Homo sapiens: one gene and its partner. The protein of the gene in region 2 interacts with the protein of the main gene of each other region in a pairwise test. Each region holds a gene or a part of one and is shown on either strand. Other genes may lie near its edges. The genes, in order: PEX26 and KCTD15.

Region 1 (12,438 bases), on a different chromosome or scaffold from region 2:
TCACACCCAGCTAATTTTTGTATTTTTAGTAGAGGTGGGGTTTCATCATGTTGGCCAGGCTGGTCTTGGCCTCCCGAAGTGCTGGGATTGCAGGCATGAGCCACCGCACCCAGCCAAGGAAGATAATTTTTGTCCCCATCTTGGAGGTGAGAAAAATTGGACCCGAGATTAAATGACTTATGCAAAGTTATAGGGCAAATTAGTAACAGAGCCAGAACCAAAACCAGTCCAATCCTATATCTAGAAAGCTATATATTTATACTTTTTTTGTGTGTGTATGTGTGAGACAGAGTCTCGCTCTGTTGCCCAGGCTGGAGTGCAGTGGCTCGATCTCGGCCCACTGCAACCTCCGCCTCCTGGGTTCAAGTGATTCTTGTGCCTCAGCCTCCCAAGTAGCTGAGATTACAGGTGCACGCCACCACACCCAGCTAATTTTTAGATTTTTTGAAGAGATGGGGTTTCATCATGTTGGCCAGGCTGGTCTCAAACTCCTGGCCTCATGATCCACCTGCCTTGGCCACCCAAAGTGGTGGGATTACGGGCATGGGCCACTGCACCTGGCCTCTAGAAGGCTGTATTATAATTACCATTAATTACATATTGTCCTTTATTGTCATCAAAATCATGCCACTTCTTTGAAAAATAAAAAAATCATCTGGGTGTGGTGGCTTATGCCTATAATCCCAGCACTTTGGGAGGTCAAGATGGGAGGATCACTTGAGGCAAGTTCAACACCAGCCTGGTCAGTGTAGTAAGACCCCATCTCTGTATTTTTTATAAGAAAAAAAAAGGAAGGAATAAAACAGAGTACATAATATACTACAGGTTTTTTTTATAAAAAGGAGAAGAAACTAGGATCTATATCCATACTGGTTTTGTATTGGTGTATTAAATTTACCTCTGGAAGAGTAAATTTAAAACTAATGGCTGTGGCCAGGCACGGTGGCTCATGCCTGTAATCCCAGCACTTTGGGAGACCGAGGCAAGTGGATCACGAGGTCAGGAGATCAAGACCATCCTGGCTAACACGGTGAGACCCCGTCTCTACTAAAAATACAAAAAATTAGCCGGGCGCGGTGGCAGGAGCCTGTAGTCCCAGCCACTTGGGAGGCTGAGGCAGGAGAATGGCGTGAACCCGGAAGGCGGAGCTTGCAGTGAGCCGAGATCACACCCCTGCACTCCAGCCTGGGCGACAGAGTGAGGCTCTGTCTCAAAAAAAAGAAAAAAAAAAAAAACTAACGGCCATAGCTGCCATTGGGGTAGGTGAACTTGCTAAATGAAGAGATGGGAGGTGATATGGTTTGGCTCTGTGTCCCCACTCAAATCTCATCTCAAACTGTAATCCCCACGTCGGAGGAGGGACCTGGTGGGAGGTGACTGGATCACAGGAACAGTTTCTCCCCTGTTGTTCTTGTGATAGTGAGTCAGTTCTCACGAGTTCTGATGGTTTTAAAGTGTGGCATCCCCCCTCATTCTCTCTGCTGCTGCCATGTAAGATGTGCCTTGCTTCCCCTTTGCCTTCCACTATGACTGCTTGTTTCCTGAGGCCTCACAGCCATGCAGAACTGTGAGTCAGTTAAACCTCTTTTCTTCAACAATTACCCAGTCTCTGATACTTCTCTAAAGCAGTGTGAAAATGGACTAATACAGACTGCTTTCACACTAGACTTTTTCAAGCCTTTTCAAAAACCCTATGAATGTATTGCATATTTAGAAAATTAAACATGGTCTGAAATGAATATATAAAAAGGCTTAGCACTTTAAGAAATCAGAGCCGGCCGGGCGTGGTGGCTCACGCCTGTAATCCCAGCACTTTGGGAGGCCGAGGTGGGCAGATCACAAGGTCAGGAGATCGAGACCATCCTGGCTAACACGGTGAAACCCCATCTCTACTAAAAATACAAAAAATTAGCCGGGTGTGGTGGCGGGCGCCTGTAGTCCCAGCTATTCGGGAGGCTGAGGCAGAAGAATGGCATGAACCTGGGAGGCAGAGCTTGCAGTGAGCTGAGATCGTGCCACTGCACTCCAGCCTGGGCGACAGAGCGAGACTCCATCTCAAAAAAAAAAAAAAAATTCAGAGCCATTTGCAAAGCCTAGTTCCTAGGCTAAGAACAGGAATCAGAAGTGCTGCCTTTTCTGTGGTCTGATGTTCACAAGATGCTGGGTTCTACCACTCCAACTCTCCCCTCCTTACCTCACTTAATTAAGAGCAACAGTAATAATAACTAGCACCTGCTCACTACATGCTATGCACCTTTTCAGTGTTTTACATGGATTAGCACCAGTTAATCCTCACAACAAACCTATGAAGTAACTGAGGCACAGGAAAGATTATTTGAAGGTCAAAGCAGGTGAGTCAAGATACAAACTCAGGCCGGGTGTGGTGGCTCATGCCTGTATTCCCAACACTTTGGGAGGTGAGGCATGCAGATCACTTGAGGTCAAGAGTTCAAGACCAGCCTGGCCAACATGGTAAAACCCCGTCTCTACTAAAAATTCAAAAATTAGCCAGGCGTGGTAGTGTGTGCCTGTAGTTCCAGCTACTCGGAAGGCTGAGGCAAGAGAATCGCTTGAACCTAGGAAGTGGATGTTGCAGTGTGTCGAGATCATGCCACTGCCCTCCAGCTTGGACGACAGAGTGAGACTCTGTCTCAAAAAAAAAAGATACAAACTTGGGCATTATGGGTCTGGGACCCACACTCTTAACCACAATCCCATGATGTCTCTCATTTACGCAGCAAATTACTCCATTGGGGTTAGGCCTTGTTTCTCAAAAAAAAAAAAAAAAAGGCTTTTGCAAAATATGTTTCCTGGGAGGATTAATAGAGCACATCTTTTAGCCATTGTCTTTAGCACCTCTGAAAACAAGCACTTGTCACCATGGAGACCATGAAATCCAGGAACAGGACAGAACACAAACAAGTACTAAAAGGGGAGTGGGAAGCATTCCCAGAATGTTCCAGAGCAGGGGGTGCCCGCCGGACAGAGATGTCAGAGCCCACAGAGGGACTGGGAATGGGTAGGATGTCTCTGGTGGGGCGACCAAAAAATTTTACCAGCTCCCCAGCTTTCCAGAGAAAGCAGCCCATTCTTTGAGACCCAGCTAAGTCCACTGGTAACCAAGAGCATGGCTTATCTGTGTGAGTCATCCAATGAAACTACCAGCTTGTATTTATACCTACCCAGGAGGACACCCGCCAGGCTTTGTCATTGCTGGTACATCTGAGAAGAACACCTCCTGCTCTTTCTCTGGAGGGAGCTGGGCGACGATACTACTAAACAGATGCCAAAGCACAGAGCCCTCCCCTGCCCCACCTCCACCCTTCAGCCCTGGTGCGGGTCTTATTGCTCACCAACTCTTGCTGCTTCTATTTCTTCCTTCCCTAATTCCTAAGGCCAAAATCCAAGTTCATTCAACAAATCTTTATTACTTGGCCTCTTACATGGATGGCCTCATTCCAGGTGCTATGGGGGAGATAAGAACAGAAATCCTGGTACCTGTATGCCTAGATTCAAATCCCAGCTCTACCATTTAAAAGCGGTGGGGCACTGGGCACATTAGCCCCTCTGAGTCTGTTTTGCTGTCTCTAAAATGATAATATCTACCTCGCTGGCTTGAACCCAAGAGGAGGGTGCAGTGAGCCGAGATCGCACCACTGCACTCCAGCCTAGGTGACAAGAGCAAGATTCCATCTCAAAAAAAAAAAGAAGAAAAGAAAAGAAAAGAAAAAAAAAGCCAAAGGAAAATAAGAAACTAGCTATGGAGGCAGAAAAGGGGCAGTCAGTGGGGTCAGAGACAAGGCAAGAAGCCAAAGAAGGGATGGCCCTCTACCGCATTTGGAAAATAAGCCTGTAACATAAAAGTATGCATGCATTTTTCTGAGGGCAAGAACCTGTAGGTTACATTCTGAGGACCATACAAATCGGTTTTCCACCTAAGAAACTTCTCCATGTAAATTATGTTGAGGTCGTCATTAAAGAAGCTTTTTTCTCTCCAGGTGCCGTGGCTCACGCCTGTAATCCCAGCACTGTGGGAGGCGGATCACGAGGTCAGGAGATCGAGACCATCCTGGCTAACACGGTGAAACCCAGTCTCTACTAAAAATACCAAAAAATTAGCCAGGCGTGGTGGCGGGCGCCTATAGTCCCAGCCACTCGGGAGGCTGAGGCAGGAGAATGGTGTGAACCCAGGAGGCGGAGCTTGCAGTGAGCTGAGATCACGCCACTGCATTCCAGCCTGGGTGACAGAGCGAGACTCCATCTCAAAAAAAAAAGGCTTTTTTCTGAAATGACACTCTTCTACAAAAGTGCTTTCATTTCTTCACCAAGTCTCTGCTATTATCTGACACCTGTCCGTCCCACCTTGGATAGTACAAAAGTGACAAGAGGATGCTAAAAGTTTTAAAGGGGCTGTTGGAAAATACGAGCTGGGAAACATGTAGAGCTAAATATGAGCTCAGGTCAATATTAAAATTGGAAGTAGGTCACAGAATCCCAACCCCACATATTTGGATCCAGCCCTTGGTGAGTGGGCCTTGGACTGTACTTCACAATCCCATCTTCACCTGCAGTTGTCCGGCCAACATGGCCCCTTCCCGCCTGCCCTTTCCTAACCACCTCCACTCTCTCTAGTGAAGACGCTGAGCTCGCAGCCATGCTGGTTGCACACTGCCATTTTCTACAGGTTCTCAAGTGCATGGGCTGCCAAGAGGGTTGGGTGTTTACATTTATTTTTAATAGAAATGGGGTCGTACCCGGGGCATCTCTTTTCTTCATACTGCAATGTTGCTAGATACACAATCAGACACCAGAGGGTTGGGCATTCTTGCAATACCTTAACAGTGCTGAAACCTGCAGCATGGTACTAAGGAAGTTAAAGTTAGAATGTAACCACTTTATTTAAAAGGTTTATTTTTGTTTTTTTTTTTTTTAAGACGGAGTCTTGCTCTGTCCCCCAGGCTGGAGTGCAGTGGCGCCATCTAGGCTCACTGCAAGCTCCGCCTCCTGGGTTCACGCCATTCTTCTGCCTCAGCCTCCCGAGTAGCTGGGGCTACAGGCACCCGCCACCACGCCCGGCTAATTTTTTGTATTTTTTTAGTAGAGATGGGATTTCACCGTGTTAGCCAGGATGGTCTCGATCTCCTGACCTCGTGATCCACCTGCCTCGGCTTCCCAAGGTGCTGGGATTACAGGCGTGAGCCACCGCGCCCGGCCAGGTTTTTTTCTTTAATTTAAATGAAATGGGGTTGAAGTGAACATGATCTTGTTGACCATGTTCGTGAATTATAGATGCAACATGCATTGGTAGAATCGTGTGATGGTCTTTTGTGATACTTAATTTTTACATATCCCAGTCTCTGTATGTATCTGCACAAAGAAAAAACAAACTCCTGCTTTGCTCTTATTGAAGGGTTCCCAGGACTGCGTGTCTGCTCCTGAGCTCTGTTTTAAGTATGTGTATCCTTTGCTTGTATTTTGTATTAAAAAAGTAAGAAAAAGAACCCTTTATTGTTGAGCATGTTGGCATTGTCCCGTTTATTTTTTTCTCTTTTTGGGACATATGAAGCAAGTTATTCTTTTTCTGTATCTTTTTTTCTTTTGTAAACTTTTTGTTTTTTTCTTGTTTAAAATTGGCTTTATAAAAGGGCTTTTATAACCCACCCCCCCCCCAAAAAAAAGAAATGGGGTCCCACTAGGTTGCCCAGGCTAGCTTTGAACTCCTAGGCTCAAGCAATCCTCCCACTCTGGCCTCCCAAAGTGCTGGGATTATAGGTGTGAGCCACCATGCCAAGTTAAAAAAAAAAAAAAAGTCTGTGAAGCAGGAGTTGCAGGAAAAAAAAGAATTAGTTAATTAATTAGGGGGAAAAAAGCTGAAAGAAAATCAACCGTATTAATAGTAATTATTTCTGAGTGGTGGGATCACGAGTCCTGTATTTCCTTCTATGCAATTAATATTTTCTAAAATATACATGCATTGCTTTAAGACAAGAAAAATACTTGCTGTTTTATCAAGAGGCCTAGAGGTGGCAAACAATGTCTGGATCCGTACACCACCGCTGGAGGAATGCAGAGGCGGGCGGGGGCGCGACAGGCTGCTAGGCACCGTGCCCACTGTCTGTCCTGTAGCTTCCTACCAGCCCGAAACACTGAGGTTTCCAGAGGCAGCGAGGCAAAAGGGCCAGACATTTTTCTGGTTAACACTCCATGTATTCAGTTTCCAAAGGTGCTAGGCCAGGGCGGTGAGGCCGACCTTGGCCAGGCCGTGGGTGGGTTGCTTGACTAGGCCAGAGAGTAAATCAGTAGAATTCCCACAGGCCCCATCTGTGGATGTGAGGCCAAAGTCCATCGGCCCCACGGCTTTTCCGTGCTGGGAGGGAGGAAAGCAGAGGACGGCACAGGGAGGCTGGGAGGGAGGAAGGAAAGCAGACGACGGCACAGGGAGGTGCCCTACTCGCGGTTCATGTCATCACTTTCGCTTTCTGACAGTTCCTTGGGCTGCTTTAAGTGGATAGCAGAGGCCACCTTCTAGATGTAGAAAGAAACTGAACGTCCAGAGTGTGAACTGGCCTGCTTGTATCTCCCCTCGGCGGCAGTGGTGGTTGCCAGCCTGGCTTGCGTTTGCCCAAAAGTAATAGTAAAGAGCTCTGACCACTGCTGCTCACCCTAAACTTGGGGCTGCTGTACTTGTAGGCTTTGGAAAGCATGGAGGGGTTTCCACATATTAAAAAGGAAAAGGGCACCAGGTCTGTGCTCTGTGACCCCATCACGCAACGGAATGACACACAGCTATGAAGAATGAGGCTGCTCCACATATGCTGGGACTGAGAAAGGTTTTTGTGTTTTGTTTCGTTTCTGAGACCAAGTTTCACTCTTTGTTGCCCAGGTGGGAGTGCAATGGCGCGATCTCAGCTCACTGCAACCCTTGCCTCCCGGGTTCAAGTGATTCTCCTGCCTCAGCCTCCTGAGTAGCTGGGATTACAGGTACCCACCACCATGCCCGGCTCATTTTTTTTTTGTATTTTTAGTAGAGATGGGGTTTCACCATGTTGGCCATGCTGATCTCGAACTCCTGACTTCAGGTGATTCACCCACCTTGGCCTCCCAAAGTGCTGGGATTACAGGCATGCGCCACCGCGCCCAGCCGAGAATTGTTTTTTTTCTTTTTAAACGTGGCACAGTGTGTGTAGTGTATGTGACTACTATCATTTGTGTAAGAGAAAGAAAAGTTTACTATCAGAGACTGTATCTGGAGGGATAAACAGACTGGCAAGGGTTGCCTCTGGGCAAGAAACTGGGGAATAGAGAGCGGGAGTAGAAAGACTGTATTAGCTGGGTGTGGCAGCACACACTGTAGGCCCAGCTACTCCAGAGGCTGAGGGGAAGACTTGCTCAAGCCCAGGAGTTCAGGTCCAGCCTGGGCAACACAGCAAGACTAAAAAAAAACAACTTTCTTTTCCAAGAATACCCTTTTTGTAACTTTTGAATTCCGTATTTTTTAATGGTCTATGGTCTACAAACACTCATGTGCAAACACATACACGCAGAATAGGGATCACCTGCACGAAGCTATGAACTATTTCCTCATCCCTTCTAGCCCCTTCCTAGAGGCGAACCCTCCGCCCCCACCCCCAGGCACTATCTGTCCTGCTTGCACCCACCTCCACCCAGGGCTGGCCAACAATAGCCTGTTTCCTCTCCATTCCACCCCTCTCCCCCACCCTCCCATCCCACCACAGAAGAGGATTACTGGTTCCTGCTTTCCTTAGCGCCCCTAAATTTAAAGGTATCTGTTCTATGTTGCATGCTTCAGAACCCTGTAGAAACAACCAGCAAATCCACTGTTGATACGCAATTACCCCTCTTGGATGCATCTGCAACAAGCACTCCCCAGCTTCGAAGGGGCAGCAAAGAAGTTCACAATTACAAGACCATGGGGTCACGACCACAGAAGCGATATGAAACAGGTCCCGGGACACAGGGAGGGGCAGAAAGAATTCTTTGAGTAAGCCTGGAAGGTGGAGGGGCTCACCAGGCCAAGAGCAGGTGCTAGGCCTTCAGTAGGAACAGTGCGAGCCAAGGCACAGAGGCCAAGGGGAGCGAGCTGTAGCTGTGATGGTGGGCAGCTGGAAGGCCGCACATATAATCAACAGGGGACCCACATCAAAGGGGAGATCTTAGCCAAAACCAGCACATAGGGGCCTTCAATTCCATGAAGAATTTAGATGTTATCCAGTGAGCCATGGGAAGCCATTGAAGCGTTTTATCTAGGGTAGTTAAGTGGGCCCAGATTTTCATTTTAAGAAATCATTCTATAGAAGGAATCTCAAACCTCACCTGACTGCTTTTCTCCCCCCAGGGTTCTAAGCTTTACTTAAAAGCCCATATAAAAAAGTATAGATTTGCTTCCTACAGACTTGAACCATGCCCTAAGGATTTAATTCTAAGGGGCCTGTGAAGTTTACCTACTTTACTCATTTTTCTAAAGAAAAGTTGGCCGGGCGCGATGGCTCACACCTGTAATCCCAGCACTTTGGGAGGCCTAGGTGGGTGGATCACAAGTTCAGGAGATCGAGACCATCCCGGCTAACACAGTGAAACCCAGACTCTACTAAAAATACAAAAATATTAGCCAGGCGAGGTGGTGGGCACCTGTAGTCCCAGCTACTCGGGAGGCTGAGGCAGGAGAATGGCATGAACCCGGGAGGCGGAGCTTGCAGTGAGCTGAGATCACGCCACTGCACTCCAGCCTGGGTGACAGAGACTCCATCTCAAAAACAAACAAACAAACAAACAAACAAAACAAAAGAAAACTTGTTGCCTTGCAACCCCCGAAAATGTACCAAGGAAAAGCTAGCAAGCACCTTCTCTATTTTGGGCATCAACACCAAGGACACAGTGCAGGGCAGCCTGCTTGGCCTCTGGGTAGAGAAAGGCCAGCCCCTGCAGAAAGCCCTTCTTCATCCTGACAGCACAGCAGTGCTCTACGCTTCCTTGCACAGAAACTCATAAGATGCTTGTGGCTGGTGAGAAAACAACACTGAAACATTTCAGCTCCTCAAATGCTAAGGCCTCGGTGCCACCTCCCTAAGGTTTTATTGTTCACTGCCTTCAAAACCCATGTCTCCCGTCTGCCCCGCCCCCCACATCCCTTCCAGCTCACCTGATTACTCAGTTCCATTTTCAGCTCAGCAGCCTCTGAGGCTGGCCTACTTTTCAAGGCCACACGAGCAGAAAAATTTGGGCATTACACAAACAACAGAACATAACTAGGACAATGGGACACAGAAAGGGAAGAACCTGAAATGGTGTGTACCAAGGAGGCAAGGATACAGGCAGAACCTGGTGAAACAGCCAAGGGACAAGTTTGCAGGGCGGGAGGGAAGGGCTGGCGGGGAAAGAGTGGGCAGAGGCACTGAGCGTAACAGAGCAAGACTTGGCCAGGACAACCTGGAAAATTGAGCTGAAGACCAAGAGGCACCAGGCAAGATCACTTTACCCAGCGATAAGAGCTGTAAGGCTCACTTGGTTTTCAGTAGTCAACCCGGTGGTTCTGAAAACCACACCCCAGCCTGAACAGTGAGAAGGCTCCTGCAGCTTCAAGCGCATGGCAAGACCATGGGAACAGCCTATTGATACAGAATTAGATCAGCTCTGGGGAGCACAGTGCAGGCAAGAAGAGGCCCTCTCAGATCTACTCTAGCTAATTAAGGTACTGTCCTGTGGGGCATGTTTTTTTGTTTGTTTTGAGAGAGTGCGGTAGCACAATCTCAGCTCACTGCAACTTTTGCCTCCCTGGCTCAAGTGATTCTCCTGCCTCAGCCTCCCAAGTAGCTAGGACTATAGGCGTGCACCACATCTAGCTAATTTTTGTATTTTTAGTAGAGATGGGGTTTCACCATGTTGGCCAGGCAGGTTTTGAACTCCTGGCCACAAGTGATCCACCCACCTCACCCTTCCAAAGTGCTGGGATTACAGGCGTGAGTCACCATGCCCAGCAAAGAAGTATGTTTCTCAAGAAGTGAAAGGCCAAGGGTCACTTCACCAGGCTTTTTCTGAACTTCCAGCTCCATTAACATCCTGACCTGAAGAACCAACCCCTTGCCTTCACCAAGAAGATGGAATGTTTCATGGACACAGTCCCTGTCCCCAAACCCCTCCTTTTCAAGGGGCCTCTGGTCATCCGGGGCACTGTTCTGGAGGTGCTGTGCCTGCTGGTCCTGCTTTGTTTCCACATCATCTACCGCGACCAGCCGAAGTAGGGTGCAAAGGAGAGGGCACCCAGGCAGCAAGACACAGTGCACTCCGCGAGATTAGGCTGGTCCCATTTCCCCAGGGGCGCCTGTGGATGTGTCGCTCTGTCGCTCTGCTTCTGTGGCCACGGACGTGAGGAGCAGAGAGGCTGTGGTGCGCAGGGACCCTCAGTCACGGATGCGGAGCTGGTAGAGGCGAGAAAATGCAGCCTTCCGGATCCAGCGGAAGAGCTGGGCCAGCTTGTAGAGGAAGTGCAGGGAGGAAGGGGAAGCTGCAGGGCAGAGGGAGACTACAGTGAACGTCCCACCCCTCTCACCTGTCACTCTGCCATCTCCCACCCTGGGAGACTCCACTACCAATTACACATAGTTGGTTTTGTTTTGTTTTTTTTAGAGACAGGGTCTCGCTCTGTCACCTAGGCTAGAGTACAGTGCAGTCTGTGTTCAGCTCACTGCAGCCTCAATCTCTGGGGCTCATGCGATCCTCAGCCTGCAGGTGCAGGTTCTCCTCCCCCACCATCATCACTCCAATGAGTCGGGCCTGCTGCTGAGGGTCAGGGCCACTGGGCCAGGCCCTTCTGAAGCAGCCTTGGAAAGAGCAGGCTCAAATGTCCTCATGCCATCCCCACTAGGAGACCAGGGTTTACGAGACTAAAGGGCTTACGGGAACCATAAAGAATCATAAAGAGTTTCTAAATCTGTATCAGTCAGGAGGTGGCCAGGGATGAACGCTGATGATACTGAGCATTCCGAGCGCTAACTCGTGACTTCTTTGTAAAGCAAACAGAGTCGTCCACAGGGGATCCCTGCTCAGCATTCAGCAGACGGGTTAGAAGGACAACTCTGAGCTATGTGACGGAAACCTCGCTGGCCAGGCATGATGGCTTGTGCCTATAATCCCAGCACTGTGGGAGGCTGAGGTGAGAGGATCACTTAAGGCCAGAAGTTGGAGACCAGCCTGGCAAACATGGCGAAACCCCGTCTCTACTAAAAATACAAAATGTAGCCTGGCATGGTGGTGTGTGCCTGTAATCCCAGCTACTTGGGATACTGAGGCAGGAGAATCGCTTGAACCCAGGAGGCGGAGGTTGCAGTAAGCCGAGATCACGCCACTGCAACCTGGGCAACAGAGCAAGACTCTGTCTCAAAAATAAAAATAAAAAATTAGCCGGGCATGGAGGCACATGCCTGTAGTCCCAGTTACTTGGGAGGCTGAGGAGAGAAGATCGCTTGAGCCTAGGAGGCAGAGGTTGCAGTGAGCCAAGATCACGCCGGTGCACTCCAGCCTGGGCAACAGAGAAAGACCCAGTATCAAAAACTAAATAAATAAAATAAAATAAAAATAAAAATAAATAAATAAATATTTTAAAAAAGCTCACTGAATAAGAGAAAGAGAAATGGGGAAACAGGGAGAATCTAAAGACTAAGTTAACAAATGGCACTTCTCAAAATAGACAAACCATTTGAAGGGACCAGTATAAGGGTTTCTGATTTCCTCTTAAATTTTGAAACTTATTTAATCATATTCTAAGTCTAAATTCATGAGAAGAGTAGAGATTAGAACATAACTCACACTGAGTAACACAAAAAAATCTAAAAGAGCGAGTGCCAAGTTTGGCTTCATGCACCTGAGGGGTCAATCCTCAGGAAATAACTGGGGTTGTTCCCAAATATCACTTAGGGAGCTCATTCCTTCTTCACAGCGAGGCAGAAAACAGAATAATCACCCAAATGTTCAATAATAGGGGTTGTTAAATTACTTAGGGGCATTCCTGTGAACTGGAATAGTTAGCGATTTAAGGCCATGCTTGAAAGCATATGTGTGACATGTAACTGCCTACAATCTCTATATCCATAGAAAAAGACTGAAAGCACAGCAGAGTAGCAGATTTCTATGCCCTTCTTTATACTTTTCTCTATTTTCCACATTTTTTTTTCTTTTTTGAGACAGAGTTTCGCTCTTGTAGCCCAGGCCAGAGGGCAACAGTGCAATCTTGGCTCACTGCAACCTCCGCCTCCTGGGTTCAAGCAATGCTCCCTGCCTCACCCTCCCCAGTTGCTGGGATTACAGGCACGCACCACCACACCTGGCTAATTTTTGTATTTTTAGTAGAGACGGGGTTTCACCATATTGGCCAGGCTGTTCTCGAACTCCTGACCTCAGGTGATCCACCCTCCTTGGCCTCCC
Region 2 (12,438 bases):
ACCAACTCAGAATTCAAGCCACAAGTCCCGGGGCACCTGCAAGAGGCCCTTTACACTACCACAGCCACGTGCTTTTGCAGCTTGCTTGCTTGTTTATTTATTTACTTATGAAAAGTAAATAAATTACTCTTAAAAAACTTTAAAAGTAAAGTTTATTTATTTACTTATGAAACCTTGCTCTGTTGCCCAGGCTGGAGTGCAGTGGTGTGACCTCAGCTCACTGCAACATCCACCTCCTGGGTTCAAGCAATTCTCCTGTCTCAGTCTCCCGAGTAGCTGGGACTACAGGTGCACACCACCACGCCCGGCTCATTTTTGTATTTTTAAGAGAGATGGGGTTTCACCATATTGGTCAGGCTGGTCTCGAACTCCTGACCTCAGGTGATCCACCTAAATCGGCCTCCCAAAGCGCTAGAATTACAGGTGTGAGCCACCGCACCCGGCCTTTTTTAATTAAAAAACAAATTTGTATAGACAGCATCTTGCTATGTTGTCCAGGCTGGTCTTGAACTCCAGGCCTCAAAGGATCCTCCCCATTCGGCCTCCCAAAGTGCTGGGATGACCAAGTGAGCCACTGTGCCTGTACTAAACAGAAGTCTGATGTGCCACCTTGCTCCATCTTCTCTATCTCCATCCTGGTCCATCCAAAGCCTCCACCCAGCCTCCCTTGGCCTGGGGAAGGGGCCTCATCCATAATTGCCTCACTGCACCCACCCCCACCCCTCTCTGCCTTCTTCCCCACCCAACAGCCAGAGAGATCTTCCCAATTTGCAGATCTGACTGCCCTTCCCCTGCACACACCCCTTCCACTGCATTCAGAGTTAAATGCCAGGCACTGGGCCACCCACCAAGGTCCTGACATCAAACAGCAGCCTCCTTTCCTGACCTTCCCCTCCCAGTCCATAAAGCTCCAGGCTTGACACCTTCTTTCCAGTTCTGGAATGCATCAAGCCATCTGCCACCCCCATCCCCTGCACCAAGGCCCTCACACCTGTTTGGCCCCGTTCTGCCTTCACCACCCAGATGAACATCATTTCTTTCAAACCCGCCCAGCCCAGGTCACATGGACTTCAAGTTCAGTATCTGTCTGCCCGCTAGACTGTTAAGTGTTGTGGGGCAGGTCCTAGTGTGTGTGTTTCACTGTTTTCAGCCTGAATTCAGAGGCTGGCACTCAGTAACTGAGCTGGATGAAAGACAAGGCCCCAGGGCTACTGGTCCTCTGGATAGAGGAAGGAATGAAGGAAGGAAGGACAGACATTTGCTAGTATTAATACATGCCAGTGTACCCCAGGCCTGAGTTTCCTTCCTCCCAGAGTCCCTGACATGTGGGAGGGGCTCAGCACTGAGGCATGACCCAGGGAACCAGGTCACCTGCCCTGACGGGCTCACCCGGAGACCTGGGGGTTAACCTTTTGTTTAAAGGGTATCTGTTTGGTCATCAGGGCTTTTCTCCCTGCAAATTGCCCAACACAGAACAGATTTTTTTTTTTTTTTGAGACAGAGTCTTGCTCCGTCATCCAGGCTGGAGTGCAGTGACGTGATCTCGGCTCACTGCAACCTCCGCCTCCACCTCCTGGGTTCAAGAGATTCTCCTGCCTCAGCTTCCCAAGTGGCTGGTATTACAGGCACCTGTCACCATGCCCGGCTAATTTTTGCATTTTTCTTTTTATACTTTATTTTTTGAAGTCTAATTACAGCCGTCCTTTTCTTTCTCTTTTTTGAGACGGAGTCTTGCTCTGTCGCCCAGGCTAGAGTGCAGTGGCGCAATCTCGGCCCACTGTAACCTCTGCCTCCTGGGTTCAAGTGGTTCTCCTGTCTCAGCCTCCCGAGTAGCTGGGATTACAGGCCTGCCACCACGCCTGGCTAATTTTTCTATTTTTAGCAGAGACGGTGTTTCACCATCTTGGCCAGGCTGGTCTCAAACTCCTGACCTGGTGATCCACCCGCCTCGGCCTCCCAAAGTGCTGGGATTACAGGCGTGAGCCACCGCTCCAGGCCTAATTTTTGCATTTTCAGTAGAGATGGGGTTTCATCAAGTTGGCCAAGTTGGTCTTGAACTCCTGACCTCAAGTGATCCACCCACCTTGGCCTCCCAAAGTGCTGGGATTACAGGCATGAACCACTGCACCCAGCCGATGGAACAGATTTATGAACCTCTAACTACTATAACGCTGGCACGCGCCCATCCTTAAACACGACAAATGTTCAGCTGGGATACGTTCTGCAGCTTGATTGTTGTTATATACCCTGATAAATAAGCTAAAAATGTGAGAAAACAAAATTAGTTTAGAAAAACTGATTTAGCCCTCGGCTTCATCGTTTAACTTTTTATGGTTACCATGACAACCAGGGGTCCACTTATTAAGTCACAGCGTCCCCTGTGTAATGCCATCACACAGGCAGTGCAGGGGGGCCACCAGCCATGGACTTACCTTAAAGTCATCCGGAAGCAGCAGCTTGGACGTCCGCAGGAAGCTCAGGACGTAGCGGAAAATCTCCCCATCCCGGTCAATGAAATAATGTTGCTTCAAACTGTCCAGGACGATGGGTTCAGTGCCATTGAAGAGGCGGCTTATCCTGGGAGAGACAGGCGAGGTGGGATGTCTGAAGGGATGGGGACAAGTCTGCCTGTCTTCCCACACCCCGCCCCCACTCCTGAGGGCCCACACGGCTGGAGGGGCGAGGGACCTGACATGGGTGACTCTGGAACTGTTCCAGGCCTGACAACATCTGCACACACCTGGGGCAGCCAGGCTACAGTTAACAGGACACACCACACATCCTGCCTACACCCGCAAGTCACAGCCAGAGAGGGACACACCCAGCTGTACACACCAGCCTGCCAACACACGTTATGTTACAGGCCTGGAAAGGTATAGCAAGACACAGGCACCTTACCCCCTACACACAAACCAGCTGGTCACAGGCCTGGTGCACACACCCTTGCCAGATAGACCCACCCAGAAAATGCACATGAACCATCCAACACCCCGGCCAACAGCCACACACCCAGTAAACGAGCCAGGACATACATCCTCCCCACCCAACCCATGTAAACGAGTGTGAGACACACAGGCCTGTGCAACAGGCACAGGGTCACATGGTCCCTTCCTTCCCAACACACACATATCATGCAGATCCAGACACATCCAGGAAAGGACACACACCTGTCAACACCAGGCACCCAGAGACATGACGGCACAAATCCCCTACTGCCGCTCACTCAGGGAGCCCACAGGGAGAAACAGAGGCAGACAGGAGGGATGGCAAGTGTGCCACAGCACACACATGCAACAGGGCCCTTGCACACATGCCACAACACAGGCATACACACACGCACACAGAAACCATGCACACACATGCACCACAGTGCATACATATGTGCACACATGCCAGAGCGTATGCACACCACACCTAGTGGTGGCGGATGGGGACTGGAGAGAAGGCAGGTGCCGGTACCCTGTCCTCTGAAGGGCAATGGTTCTAACAAATGCAAGACCAGGAGAAGGGTCTTGGGGAGCCCCTGATGCCTGTCCCTGTCCACTCCGGGGAGAAGGAGCCAGGCCTCAGAGCCAGGGCTGATACCACCTCCCCAGTGCCCAGGGTGGCCAGCTCTGGTTTGGCAACTGCCCTGGCAGACCCCAGGTCGAGCTAGGGATAACTAGGAACCCTAAAGAGGGGTGGGAGTAGCCAAGGGCTTGGTTTGGGAACAGGAGGGAAGTTGGCATCATTTCCCCAAGGGCAGCACCACCACATCCTTCAGCAGGCAGGGCCACACTCCTGCCCAGCTGGACCCTGCCAAGGTGGCAGCTTCTCTGCACAGCTGGGAGAACAGTAGCTCCAACTTGGGACCTAGGCTTCCCAGCCCGGCCTGCACACAATCTGGAGCCTAAGCCCCTCACTCTCTGCCTGCACCAGCAGGGACCCCTGCAGGGATGCCCCCTGTTCTAACAGCAGCCCACTCCTCTGTCCACTCCAAGTCAGCCGTCTCCAGGGCCCTGCCCCACTGCCACTTGCACCCAGGACACACTAGCTGGGCAGGAGCTGAGGGAGTCAGAGCCCCCAAGTCTGCCCTCAGGGCCTCCCGTCCACACCATCCTATGCTCTGATGGCCCAGCACACTCAATGCATCAGCCATGATGGTCTGCCCGGGTATGGAGTCTCTGGGAACACGGTGCAGGTTTCTCTCCTAGCAGGGTAGTATAAAGGGCACGGTTTAGCTGGGCACCGTGGCTCACACCTGTAATCCCAGCACTTTGGGAAGCTAAGGTGGAGGACTGCTTGAGGCCAGGGGTTCGAGACCAGCCTAGGCAACGCAGCAAGACCCCATCTCTACAAAAAATTTAAAAATTAGCTGGGTATGGTGGCATGCACTTGTAGTCCACTTGGGAGGCTGAGGTGGGAGGATCACTTGAGTCCATGCGTTTGAGGTTGCAATGAGCCGAGATCACACCACGTACTCCAGCCTGGCCAAGAAAGACAAACGCTGTCGCTTAAAAGAAAGAAAGAAAAGGGCAAGGCTGTCTCGTGGATGGGCATGGGGAGGTCAGAGTCTGCTGTGAGCCCGAGTCTGTGGACCCAGAGCTGCAGCCACCCAGATACAACTCATCTCAGAGCTCCAAAGGCCGATGAGCCCTGTCAACCCCCTAGGCCTGGTGACAATGGCACTGCAGGTCACAGCCCCTGCTGGAAAGGCTGTGGGTTCCACGGCTGGCTCCAGTTACAAAGGCCCTAGGACCTGGCCTAGTAGAGCGTGGGCATCCAGATGTCAGAGTGAGGGCCACCCAGCATTCCTGGAGACAGATGGGTCTGTCCCAGGCTGCCAGATACCATGGGCAGTGGTTGGCAGGTGGCTGAGGTCCATGTGTGGCACCGGTGGGAAGTAAGAGCTACATCCAAGGTGAGTCAGCAGATCCAAACCCTCAGCCTCCTGGGAACTCTCCCCACCCTTCCCAGTGGAGCTCCAAAGTCCATGTAAGCAGGCAGCATTCTAGGCCTGGCTGAGTTCCCAACCCTTCTGACGTCAGGTCTGGCTGAGGCTCTAGCTGGTCCTGTTGGTCTAGAAGACTCCTGATGCACCCACATTCCAGGGCTGGATGGGTTCTAGGTTGTCTCATCGGTCCAAGTTTAGAAGGTTTTCCATCTGCCTTATTTCAGGACAGGCTGATTCTAGATCTTTCCATGGTTCAGTATAGGCTCCTGGATCAAGCGGCAGCTGTACCGCCTCTCCCAGGACAGAGGCCTTTCATGCCCTCAGCGTCTGAGGCTGCCAAGGACGTGAGCAGGTTGAGGAAAGGTGAGGATAATCACCATGGAGGAGCCCTCAGCCATTCTCAGCCCTGCAGGTATGAGTTCCCAGCTCTGTCAGGGGCTCCACGTTCCCTGTGGAAAATGGCCCAGGCCACCCTCTGAGAGAGGATGCAGGGTTTGAGGGGCCGGCTTCCGAAGTCCTCCATGGAATGAGGTGGCCAGTTCACGCTGCAGCAGGTGGGACCCTCAGGGGCAGAAAAGATGCCTCCAACCACCTGCCCTGTGTGCACAAGGGGGAGCATCAGGATGGCCTTCGTCTTCTCGTTTATTTCCTTTTTTTTTTTAAGCTCTGGCTCCAATTTCCTGGCTGTTTCAGGCACCAGGTTTTAAGAGTTCTGAAGCTCCTGGCCATCTTCATTTGATGCTTCCCATAGTCAGGATGGATGTCAGAGTGTGGCTGTGATGGCGGCAGCTAACGGGGGTCAAGCAGGCAGGACACCAGCAAGGGGGCCGGCCCAGGGAATCCACTCCCAGCCCCGGCTGTGCTTGGCTGTCTCGGGTGAGGACCAGTGACTGCTCCTAGGCAGACCAGAGGAGTCACCCAGCACGAGACTCTCCAGCACCCAGGCCACCCCAACCGCCGAGACCCAGAGGCTCAGGCAGAGTTCTCAGGGGAGCCGAGGGTAGAGGTCCCAGCTTTTACAATGCTGCCTAGGGCAGGTCATCTTCACCATCCAGAAACCCCCTGAGGACCACAGCACTCTTAGTCCTCCATCTCCAGGTGTCTCCTAGATCAGTGACACTAGGTGAGATTGATTTTTTCCAGAATTGGTAGAAAACTGCTTATATTATAATAATCCACTACAGGAAGGACAAGAGAGATCTGAGGGGCTCTTGCCAGCACAGCTGCCTGACCCACTTCTCAGGCCCCCTGGCCTCCTGTCCCCTGATTGTCCTGCAGGTCAGCCATCCCTGGCCTCTAGTCCAAAGCTTCAGGCCTACAGAGCACCCCCACAGCAGCCAGAGGCCATCCAGGCAGAACAACAGATTCACCTTGAGCCCCAGCCCTGGGGAAGAATAAACATAGACTGCCACCCCTTGGGCACACCAGGAGGGTCCCAAGTGCCAGATCACAGGGCCACAGGGGCCCTAGCTCCCCATGAGAGCACATCCCACAGCAGAACAAAGCAATGGGTGAGCAGCACAGTGGGGCTGGGTGGGGGGAGATGGCCCCCTGCCCTCCTGCTCTCAGGCAGCAGCCAAGAGCCCAGAATGAGAAGCCTCTCCCACCCGCCTCCCCCAGGGCCTGGGCTGTGATTACTCCAGACAGGCAACTCTCTGATTTCAGGAAACTCTTCAGAGAGGGTTGTGGGCAAAGGTTTTATGAATTTCACTCACAAACGTCGTCAACCGATTAAGGGATGATCTATCTCAAACAACTCAGAAATGCCGCAGAAGGCAAAATGGAAATTAAATAAGCAGAATCTATCTCCCATCCTAGACAGGGCTCTGTGAGTGAGCACACAGGCCAACACTGCTGACCTGGCCCCGTGGCTCTTGTCCCCACCCCACAAGCCCCAAGGCCACAGGGCCCCAGGCTGAGTCTCTGTCCACCTGGGGTACTGGAACACCAGTCACCATCTGTACCCTAGACTCTCCAAATTTGGAACTAGACACTGCACCCATTTCCAGTTTTTCCTCCTCAAGGGACCATGCCTGCACCTGCACAGGCTCCCCTGCAGCCCCAACAGGCTTGGAAAGCCACCTCTGCGCACTACCATCCTCCCTGCTCTGAGGAACCACACCGGTGACAATGCAGCCTGCCGTGTATGCTCCCCAGAGATGATCCCTCAGTATCTGGGGGATTAATTAACTCCTCCTGTTATTTCAAATGCATAACACAGGGGTGATGCCCACAGCCTTGGCCCTCCCACGCTCAGCCTTCAGCAGCCCCAGGGGAGCGATGACCGCCTCTCTGTGCCAGGAGCAAACATCCTCGGCTGAGCAAGCTGCTCAAGACCCACCCTACTCGGGTCAGCCCTGCTGCCGTGCCAACGGGGAAAGCAGGTCCCTCACCCAGGAGAGAAACACCCTGCAAGGAAGAGCAGGAGAGCTGGCAGCACCCAGCACCCCAAACCTCTCGCAGGCCCAAGGGCCTGGGCAGCCTATAAGTTCAGCAGCATGGAGGGTGCCTGTGAGCCCCCAACCAGGGTCCTGGCCAGAGACCCTTTATCCACTGATGAGGTATGTGATTCATTCCTAGCTAGTCACTGCAGCACCAGCTCCAAGGGAAGCCTGCTGCTAGCCTCTAGGGCCCAGCAGTGGCCACGGAAAATGACAAAGATGGCACACTGCAGCTCACCACAGCTCCTCTTCCCTCCCCTTGTGAATTTCCCAGGGGTGGAATAGAAAATAGGATTAAATACCCACCCCCATGCCCCCAAGACTTACCTACTCAGTATCACTCACAAATGACCCCCTGCAGGGGCCGGGCCTAAGTCTCCCTCCAGAGGAACCTTGAAGGTACGTGAGACTCCCCTGCCCGCTGCCGGCAGGCTCAGGCTGGGCTGGCTCTGAATAAGCCCTAGTCCCCTGCAGGTGGGTCAGGAGCTCCACCTTGCACTACCAATGCCGCCAAGTCAGGGTCACAAGCCTCTGTGCATAGCAGCTTTCAACAGGCAGACTTGGACTCCCCAACCCTAGCTCCCTCAGGCTGTGTCAGCTTGTGCACCCTGGAGACCCTGGTGGGTGGAGTGACAGTGGGGAGAGACCCCACCCCCTAGGCAGCAGATTACAGATGCTGCCCTGACCCACACATGCCTGATGTTTCAAGGGGCTTACTCTTACCTGGAGTCAGGGTACTTGGTGAGCGTGGCCAGGCTGCTGGTGTACATGTGGCCGCCCACATCGATGTGCACAGGTGCATTGGACTTGGTGAGCTGGGCTGGCAGGGGGATGCCCTGGGCAGCCAGGGGAGACACAGGCGACCGGGTGAGAGACAGCCGGGACATGTTTCCTCCCTCCTAGAGATGGAAACAAAGCGGAACACAAGAGTTTCAAAGCGGAACACAAGAGTTTCTCCACAACACAGCCATGCACTCCCTTTATTGAGAGTGTGATCACAGATCTAATCAGATCACTTCTGCCCGTGCCTGATCATATATTCAGCTGACAAATTATGGCCACCACTGTAATTAAGTGTATTTGCATCATTTTCTTCAAAGTACCAGAGGGAAAAAGAAAGATGCTTATTAGCAATAAGAAATCAAGAAAAAAAATTTTTCAAGGTGTCAGCCTCCAGGGGCATAAAACAAACTGCAAAATTCTAATTAAAGGTCGTGGGCTTATGTGTTAGATGTGAAATATCCCCTGACAAACGAATCACCAATTTGTGAATTGGGATTCAGGGGTTTTTTGCAAGTTTGTCTCAGTAACGAGACACCTCTAAATTAGTGACTTCCTCAGCACCTAAGGCGTTGAGTTTTATACATGTAGTAAATTTCACATCAAATTAAGAGCATTTTTGTTTCAAAAATACATAATCCTACAGCCAGTCAACAGCCACCTGGAGTGTCATGGTCCCAAGGAAGGACAGCCAGTAAACAGGCACTGGGGAAGAAGGGAAAGAGGGAACTCCCGGCAGGGACCCAGCCCACCCTGCAGGCTCACCGCGGTGCCGGTGCTGCCGTGTGTGTGAAGCGAGGACCCGCTCGGCCGCTCCTTGCGGTGAGGCATCTAGGCTTCCATCCCTGCCCAGAGTATCTGCGGGAGGCATCGACAAAACCAGAGAAGGCTTATTCCTCCTAGTCATGTACCATGGGGTCAAAGACACTTAGAATTGTCCTTTCTGCATGCTCTCTGAGACCCTGCGAGGTCCATGCAGCCCTCCCTGATTGACTCCACCGCCACTATCTCTCTATCTGTCTCCACACCCCAAAGCAGGCCTCCAGGCTGTAGCAGATGACACACACATACATGCACACACACACAGTCACACTCACACATGTGTTTTCTGGGCAGCTCCATGTCTGCTAATTCGGCTAATGACAGCACTGAAACATATGCTCACCATTATTGCCCCAAAATATTTCAGAACAAACCAGATTTTCCTGGTATTTTCCTTTCAAGCCATGTTACCAAGCGTGTCTCCTCTTGCAACAGCCTTGTGGACCAAGGCTCAGAAAGCACCCCTCACCCTCCATGGGCCAGGGAACCTAGGACCTCTCTTAATACCATCCCCATGGTGATAAGATACAGCTTGCATCTGGCCAGACACAGGGAAGCCGTTCAGCAGAAGTCCAGGCACATGGATGAGGGCAAGTCACTTGGGAAGCCGCCTCTTCTCTGTGGCTCCCAATAGCAGAGAAAACCTGTCTTTGTTTGCCTAGTCTGTACCTCACAGTTTCTCCCCAGACTCCCAGAGTGGTGTTGTCTATGCCTAATGCATTCCAGACCCCTCAGGATCACATACCCCCGAGGCATCAGGAGATGGCCAGGTGGCCAGGAGGAAGCACAGAGCAAGCAGATCAGCCAATGGACCCTTTCTACTGCTCCTCCCCAGAGGCACTCAGTAACTCTCCTCTGTGCCGTAGTCACCTGAAATAAGATTGTCCCTCAGTCCCTGGAAGCCACACCCAGGGGCGCTTTGCAGGCCCTATGCAGGAGGGGCAGAATTCTGCAGCCCCGTTCACTGATTTACAGCTGTCTCAAAAGGGAGGAAAGAGGAGATTTGCACGTGAATAGTCACCCCCCTTCACACATCCACAGACACTGGCTTCCACAAACCTACCCTGGACGTCTCTCGAAGGTTTAACCTTTAAGAGAGAAACCACTTGAAATTCTTGGGACCCATGGGATTGCTTTTTCCCATTAAAACTCTGGGATCAAAATTTGTGCCTTGAAATTCAATATCCAATTTTAATCCAACCAGAATCAAATCCTGCAAATGTAAGCAAGGTTGCTCTCCCTGAGTGCCCGGGCAAGTTTCCTGACATAAAACTGGGGTGGGAGGTTGCAATGGGCAGACAGTGATGTTTAATATATACCCTCACTGGGGCCTGTGGACTCAGAATCCACTGCTTTTGGCATTCCTGAGTTCTACAAGCTTAAAAAAACAAAACCAGGTCACTTAGCTCAAGGAGTTCTGAGAACCAAAACAGACCTCAGGAATGGATTATCCTGCCCTAGGAGGCTCTGCTGGGGGAGGAGTCAGAAGGGAAGACGCGCTGAGGATAAACTGAACAGGAAGGAATTCTGGCTGAAATTCTATCAAAGCGGACTGCAAGATGTTTTCCCCAATACCAGGACACTATTCCAAAGTGACGTGAACACCAAGCCTCCATCACAGAAGCCGCTCCACTCTGTTCTTAGCCCCTTTTCCCTCCCAAGAACAACCTGATGTTCATGGCAAGCCAGAAACTTACCGTTGGAAGCCCCAGGCTTTACGCCTTGCCGTGAATCTCCAAGGTTTCTCCCAACAAGCGCATCCGTGCGGGACCACGACCCTCTTTCCGAGACCACTGCTTAAGTCAGAAGCACAAAAGTGGGTGCAGTGAGAGATACAAGTTCATTCCACCAGCACCAGCATCAAACCCAGCACCCAGCCCCAGTGCGCCCTGGCCCGCCTGTTGCAGGGGCCTCAGCGATAGCGGTCGGGAGGGCCCACAGGTTTCCAAACTGGCCCGGTAGTGACCCGCTTCTCCAGCTGCGGCGGGAGACCCGGGTCCCTGCCCGCCCGCCGCCGAGCCCCGCCCGCCCGAGCAGAGAGAAGTGAGCAGAATGCCACGCTCATTTACACACAAAATGATTTTGTGTCCCATTGCGCTCGCAGTTGTTCGGCTCTCTGGGGGTGATTAAACTGGCTGAGCTGCGGCAGCTTGAGACGATTTCACTAAATCGCTTCTTCTGAAGTCGCTTCTTTGCTAAGCTGTTATTTTAACCATAAAAGGTAAACAGAAGGCGCCTCTCGAGCTCCCCTCGGCTCCGCACTCAGGGCGCTGGCCCGGGGCGAAAGTCCTGGGGGCCTGCACAATTGTCCCAGGGGTGGCCCCGGAGAGGCAGGCGGGCCACCTGGTGCGCGCCAGCCTCCCCACCCCCCCCCTCCCGCCTCCGCCGCGGAGCCAGCCGGCCGGTGTGAACTTAGGGGCGACGGGAGAGGGCTTGGGCCAAGGCTGGAGGCGCCGCGGGGCGGGGTGGCCGCGGCACCCGAAGCGCGGGGCTGGGCTGGGAGGGGTTGCCGCGGAGGCGGGGCGGGGACAAAGTTAAATCAAGAGGCAGACACTTGGAGACCACAGATGGGAAGCTCGCCTAATTAAGGACGTAAAAGCGCTTTTGTTCTCAAAGTTTATTGTTGCCGGGATTAAAAAAAAATTAATTGAAACTAATGCTGTTATTCACTCGTGCAGTTAAATTCCTTCATGCACATTTGAGATACGGAGCGAAAACTTGAAGCTTATCTTTCTGCAGTCGCGGGTGGGGGCCGCCGGAAGACAGAAAGGCGCTGCAGAGGCGGGGGTCCGCCCCCGGGTGTGTTTGCGAGTGTGTGCCGGGTGCGCGCGTCCAGGTCAGGGGGTGCGGGCGGGCAGCGGGGAACCGGATCTGCAGGCGGCGATCCCTCCCATCGCGGCCCCTCTCCCAGCCCCAAACCCTGCGCGCCCGGGACCACCACCAGCGCGACAGCCCCTCCTGCCAGGTTTCGGACTCGTGGGGTGGGCGTCAGAGGACGCACATCTGTCCCACTGGAGACTTTCTCTGATTTTGGGCGCCAAGCCGGGACTTGTGCATCCCGAAGCCCCAGTTGCGTGAGCCCGTTTCTGACCCCGGAAACTCGCCAGCTCTGCAGGGCGCTCGGCCCAGAACAGGGGCCAGAGTGCGGGGACCTCCACAAGCGCGCGCGCGCGCGCGCGCACACACACACACACACACACACACACACACACACACCGCGCGGCAGGAAGCTCCGAGACCGCCCGCGTGGGGAGGGTCCACCCGCGGCCAGGACCAGCCCACGTGGGCAACCCCACTCTTGCACCAGGCCTTTGTGCTGGGCACCCCCGCGCCGCCAGCCCCCGCCGCCCAGCAGAGGGACAAAGCGGCCGCCCCCGCCCAGGTCCAGACCCTGGCCGGGCGACTTTCTCGGTATCGCAGCCACTTCGGGGCAGGGTTGCGCGGCTCTGAGCGGTGGCCGCC

Evidence for each region.
Region 1: the proteins of KCTD15 (region 2) and PEX26 interact in binary tests that used the Homo sapiens proteins (3 or more experiments, as listed by UniProt).

What each region holds. Positions count from the first base shown.
Region 1 is NC_000022.11:18,086,056-18,098,493, reverse strand, and holds part of PEX26 (peroxisome assembly protein 26), read right to left. Parts: intron 10,523-12,438; coding exon 10,419-10,522; 3' UTR 1-10,418. UniProt on the Homo sapiens protein: Peroxisomal docking factor that anchors PEX1 and PEX6 to peroxisome membranes. PEX26 is therefore required for the formation of the PEX1-PEX6 AAA ATPase complex, a complex that mediates the extraction of the PEX5 receptor from peroxisomal membrane.
Region 2 is NC_000019.10:33,797,002-33,809,439, reverse strand, and holds part of KCTD15 (BTB/POZ domain-containing protein KCTD15), read right to left. Parts: intron 12,324-12,438; exon of another isoform or gene 11,046-12,323; intron 10,773-11,045; 5' UTR 10,770-10,772; coding exon of another isoform or gene 10,674-10,769; intron 9,847-10,673; coding exon of another isoform or gene 9,818-9,846; exon of another isoform or gene 9,722-9,817; intron 9,013-9,721; 5' UTR 8,986-9,012; coding exon 8,920-8,985; intron 8,274-8,919; coding exon 8,098-8,273; intron 2,582-8,097; exon of another isoform or gene 2,578-2,581; coding exon 2,433-2,577; intron 1-2,432. UniProt on the Homo sapiens protein: During embryonic development, it is involved in neural crest formation. Inhibits AP2 transcriptional activity by interaction with its activation domain.